2 separate regions of the Homo sapiens genome follow, and region 1 is linked to region 2. The links come from fine-mapping of genetic effects on gene expression. Tissue or cell type: gastroesophageal junction. Region 2 holds a variant in brackets; the other region holds the start of a gene. All regions are shown on one strand. Distances are between the middles of the regions.

The links. PIP is the estimated chance that this variant, and not a neighbour inherited with it, causes the effect.
Region 1: ETHE1 starts here. The variant in region 2 is fine-mapped to the expression of ETHE1 in gastroesophageal junction (GTEx, PIP above 0.99). The same link has a PIP of 0.9 or more in breast, esophagus muscle, lung, nasal epithelium and skeletal muscle.

The regions. Positions count from the first base shown.
Region 1 is chr19:43,525,809-43,528,426 of GRCh38, reverse strand. It overlaps ETHE1 (ETHE1 persulfide dioxygenase), which reads left to right and starts at 1,226. Exons shown (of 7, transcript NM_014297.5): 1 at 1,226-1,330; 2 at 1,768-1,912; 3 at 2,078-2,226. The coding sequence starts at 1,250. RefSeq lists silencers at 1,075-1,264, 2,615-2,618 and enhancers at 1,875-2,054, 1,570-2,074, 2,075-2,580.
Region 2 is chr19:43,498,343-43,501,100 of GRCh38, reverse strand. The region is part of intron 4 of PHLDB3 (pleckstrin homology like domain family B member 3); the gene reads left to right. Among named protein-coding and RNA genes, the nearest start is that of PHLDB3, 5.0 kb to the left of the region's middle. RefSeq lists an enhancer at 1,710-2,004. The variant G/A (reference allele first, on the strand shown) is at 1,122.

The sequences.
Region 1 (2,618 bases), 27 kb before region 2:
TGGGATGTCCTATTCTCACTACTGCTACGATTACAAAGAGCAGACTTTCTGACAGCTCATGACTTGAGACTACAGTTTTTCAGCCCCAGGTCCTTGGTGTAAATGAACACAAGCTCTTTTCAGAGGTTCACACCCCAACAGAAGATGAATAATCCCCAATCTGATTATTCAAGAGATAATGCAAAATTATCTTTTTTTTTTTTTTTAAGATTTCTTCCTGGAAAGAGAGAAACATTCCTGATAAAATGCTTATGCAATTTCTGGATGAACTTTAATGGGATCAAGTGTTGTTCTGGTAACCAGGCACCCACTCAAAAGTCCCTCAAGATATTAATGACCTGGAACCGAACGAATATCTTTTTTTTTTGAGACAGAGTCTCCCTCTGTCGCCCAGGCTGGAGTGCAGTGGCGTCATCTCTACTCACTGCAACCTCTGCCTCCCGGAACCGAACATCTTTTTCTAACCATGACTATCCTACCACCTGCTAGAAAACGGCCCCACGGGACGCGGTGGCTCACGTCTGTAATCCCAGCACTTTGGGAGGACAAGGTGGGAGGAACGCTTGAGCTCAGGAGTTCGAGATCAGCCTGGGCAACATAGTGAGAACTCCGTCTCTGCAAAAAACAAATTTTATATACATGTATGTGTGTGTGTGTGTGTATATATATATATGTATATAAATATATATATAGATATAAATATATATATATAAAATGTCGGGTGTGGTGGCAACGTGCCATAGTCCCAGCTACTCGGGAGGCTGAGGTTGGAGGATCGCTTGAACCCGGGAGTTTAAGGCTGTAGTAAGCTGAGATCGAGTCACTGCACTCAAGCCTGCGTGACAGAGCGAGACTCTGTCTCAAAATAAAACAAAAGAAAAAGGAAAAAAAACGGCCCCGAGGCTATGAGTGTACTGGGGCCTCTCCCTGGGTTTCTACTTCTCTCCCTATCTCTGTTCCTACATGAGTATGTCTGTGTGTCTCTGAGCGTCTGTCCCTCGCACTTTGAGTGTCTCCCTGTTCTCTGTTTTTTCTGGGTCTCAAAGCGTCCAGGCATTGCACTCTGGCTTTCCTCGGTCTCGCCCTCGCCCCAGTCCCGCTCGGCGGTCCCCCGCCCTCTGCCCCAGGCGTCCGTGGCCCCTTTAAGGCGTGCTCCGCCCCCGCCCCGCCCTTCCCGGGGTCAGTGCCGTAGCGCCCGGCTCCTGCAGGCGCTCGGCCTCCGCTCATTCCTGACCCCGCAGTGGGCGCGATGGCGGAGGCTGTACTGAGGGTCGCCCGGCGGCAGCTGAGCCAGCGCGGCGGGTCTGGAGCCCCCATCCTCCTGCGGCAGGTGCGGGTGGCTGGACCTAGGAGGGGACTGCTGGGCACTAGGCGGCAGCAAGGACGGAACTCCGGGGTCTCTTAATAGGGAGAGATCCGGGGGGACCCACGCCTGCATCTTGCGGAAAGCGGGGTGGAGGTTTAGGGCTGGACTCTTGGGTCCTTTAAAGGTGAGTGGTCTGGGGGCCTCTGGGCTTGGGGCCAGACCCCTGGGTCCTCTATGAAAGAACGTGCTGGGGACCCTGATTTTGGGATGTTAGGAAGTTGGAACTCTTTTGTTCTGATAGGGGAAGGTAGTGGGGCTCCGGACTCCCGACTCCCGGGGAAAGAGTGGGCTGGGGTTTCTGCTTCTGGATCTTAGGAAGAGGATAGGGTCAGTCTGGACTACTTGGCCTCCAGTGGGTGGAAGTCCGGTTCTGCGCCCTCACCTGGGTCCCCCGTTCCCAGATGTTCGAGCCTGTGAGCTGCACCTTCACGTACCTGCTGGGTGACAGAGAGTCCCGGGAGGCCGTTCTGATCGACCCAGTCCTGGAAACAGCGCCTCGGGATGCCCAGCTGATCAAGGAGCTGGGGCTGCGGCTGCTCTATGCTGGTCAGTCCGGGGACCAAACTCATGGATCCCAGCGGGGCTGGGCTGCAGCGTCAGTGGAATGGGAAGCTGGGGCCCAGAACTCCTGAGTCTGAGGGAGAAGGATCTGGGCTGGGACTCCCAGGTCCTTTCTGTACCCTCCGGACCTGTCCCTCCTCTCTCTCCCAGTGAATACCCACTGCCACGCGGACCACATTACAGGCTCGGGGCTGCTCCGTTCCCTCCTCCCTGGCTGCCAGTCTGTCATCTCCCGCCTTAGTGGGGCCCAGGCTGACTTACACATTGAGGATGGAGACTCCATCCGCTTCGGGCGCTTCGTGAGTTGGGTGCTGGGTCCCCAAGAGGGTGGTGGCCTGGACTTCTTAAACTTAAGGGAAGAGGGGACTGGGGGCCTGGGATCCTGAGTCCTTGGGGAGGAGGGACCTCAGGACCTGGGTTTCTGACCCCTGAGCTCATATTTCTGGGAGGGGGGCACCATAAACCCAGGTGGGGCACTGGGGCAAGAGGCTCTGGGCAGGTGGGGCACTGGCGGAACTCCTAAGTCAACAGCATTTAAGGAGTTTCCTTCCTAAAGCTTAGGGGCAGCCCTTTGGCCTGGCATGCATCTCCATAAAAGTTGATTAGGGGCTGGAATTCTGAGGGCAGGGCTGAGAAGGAAAGAGACCCAGTCCTGTCTTGCGGAAACCTCCGTTTGAGGAAGGAGCATCTG
Region 2 (2,758 bases):
ATGATTAATATTCTTACATTCTTGTTTCATTATCTCCAATTTGTTCTCGTCCCCAGTTTTAAAAGCCAATCCCAGACATCATATGGTCTGTACATATGTTTAGAGTGTATCATTGACAGATAAGAAATCCTTTTAGGCTGGGCCAAGTGGCTCACACCTGTAATCCCAGTACTTGCGGGGTGGGGGGGGGGTACGGGGGGCGGGGCAAAGTGGGAGGATCGCTTGAGGCCAAGACTATGAGACCAGCCTGGCAATATTATAATAAGACACCGTTTCTGTGAAAAATAAAAATACAAAAATTAACCAGGCATGGTGGCATGTGCCTGTGGCCTCAGACTCAGAAGAGTGAGGTGGGAGGATCAATTGAGCCCAGAAGGTAGAGGCTGCAGTGAGCTGTGATTATAACATTGCACTCCAACCTGGGCGATAGAGCAAGACCCTGTCTCAAAAATAAAAAATTAATAAGTTCTTAGTATTGTCTTATTTCTGGTTAGTTTTTGTGTTTCCCAGACAGTCTCAAAATGCCAGTTAACAGGTGGCTTGTTTGAATGAAGTCCCCAAAGTTCAGTGTGATTGGCTGATACGTCTTGCCCATTGTTTTATCTCTGGTGGTTCCTACCCGCTGTGTCTTCCCCATACTGTTTATTGGAAAAATCCAGTCTTCTGTCCTATAGGCAGAGCATGGCTGATCGCATGCCTGTGGTGCCCTTGAACATGCCTCTGTTTCTGCAAGTGGGTGTTGGTTAGAGGGAGAGGTTTGATCGTATTCAGAAGTGCTTTAGTGCTTCCTGAGCCAGTGTTGGGAACCTCATCTCTGGTTGTCCCGACCTAATAAGATCACCCTAGTCTCTTTTTTTTTGCGAGACACAGTTTCGCTCTTGTTGCCCAGGCTGGAGTGCAATGGCGTGATCTTGGCTCACCGTAACCTCTGCCTCCCAGGTTCAAGCGATTCTCCTGTCTTAGCCTCCCCAGTAGCTGGGATTACAGGCATGCACCACCATGCCCGGGTAATTTTGTATTTTCAGTAGAGATGGGGTTTCTCCATGCTGGTCAGGCTGGTCTCGAACTCCTGACCTCAGGTGATCTGCCCGCCTTGGCCTCCCAAAGTGCTGGGATTACAG[G/A]TATGAGCCACCGCAGTTCGAGGCCAGCCTGGCCAACATGATGAAACCCCATCTCTACTAAAAATACAAAAAATTAGCTGGGCGTGGTGGCAGGCACCAGTAATCCCAGCTATTCGGGAGGCTGAGGCAGGAGAATTGCTTGAATCCGGGAGGTGGAGGTTGCAGCTCCCAGGAGCCAAGATCACACCACTGCACTCCAGCCTGGGCAACGGGAGCAGAACTCCATCTCAAAAAAAAGAATCTTTTATCTGAAGATTGTAACATCCATCAGTGGTCATTGCTTGGGTCAGTTACCATTATAGGTTGGAAAATGGTGACTTGTGATTTTGTCAGTTTTTTTCTTTGCAAGTGTCGTGTATGTTGGAATTTTATGAGGCTGGGTCCTAGGCCCTCATTTATCCTCAAAGATCACATATTTCTCCCAGGCCCTCTCTCCTGAGACAGAAATGTGCTCTTCTTCCTAGGGTACTGGCTACTTCATACTCCCTTCTCACCCAGATCCAGAAATCTCGGTCGCAGCCCCTTCTCCCTCTGTCCCAGGAGTCCAGACCCCCAGCTCCTCCTCCCTCAAACCCAGAAGTCCAGACCCCCAGATCCTCCTTCCTTAGATCCAGGAATCCAGGCCCCAGCCCCTCCTCCCTCTGACCCAGGAGTCTGGCTGACCTCAGCAACTCCCTTCTCCACACTGTTTGTCTTGCTGTCCCTTTGGTCACCAGGCCAGAGTCCTGGACTTTGCCCTGTACACTTCCCTGTCTCTCACCTCCAAGCCCGTCAACCACCATGTCCTATCCTTTCTGCTTCCTGATCCTCTCTGTCTAGTCCATCTATTTTTCAGCCCCACCGCCCAGGCCCCAGCTTAGGTCTCACCCTCATTGCTTGGAGGACTCCCGAGGCAGCTGCTCTCCACCCCTGTAACCCATCTCCCAGAGGGATGATTCCTAGCTCCTACCCCATCCTTTCAGTCCTTCTGAGGCTCCCCATATCCCCAGGTTGACCAAACCCCCCGTGAGCTGGACGAGCTGGCCTTCCCACTGTCCTCTCCCACCACGTTCTTCCCACCACCACATCCTCTTCCACCCTGGCTGGAGTTTGTCCCCCAGACTTCTTGTACTTTTCAACTTTCATGCATTTGTGCCAAGCCGCTTCCTCTGCCCAAAATGCTCTTCTAGCTCCTTTTATTTTCCCAGATCCAAATGCTCCCTGATTGTTTTGTTTTGTTTTGATTTTGAGACAGGGTCTCACTGTCGCCCAGGCTGGAGTGCAGTAGTGCAATCACTGCAGCCTCAACCTCTGGCTGACATTGTTCTTCATTCTGGGTTCCCACAGTCTCTGGATTTTACTGCCCTGATCTTTCCAACTGGCTGTGTTCCCACTTGGAGGACAGGGCCCAGACACAATCCACTTCTGCATCCACCGTATCACATAACATGAATATGTTTTGCATTCATTAATTTTCTTTCTTCTTTCCTTCCTTCCATCATTCCTTCCTTCCTTCCTTTTTGTTTCTCTTTCTCCTCCTTTCCTTTTCTTTCTTTTTCTTTCTCTTCCCTCCCTCCCTCTTTTCTTTCTCTCTCTCCTTCCTTCGTTCCTTCCCTCTTTCTCTCTTTCTTTCTTTTCTGTCTTTTCTCCTTTCCTTC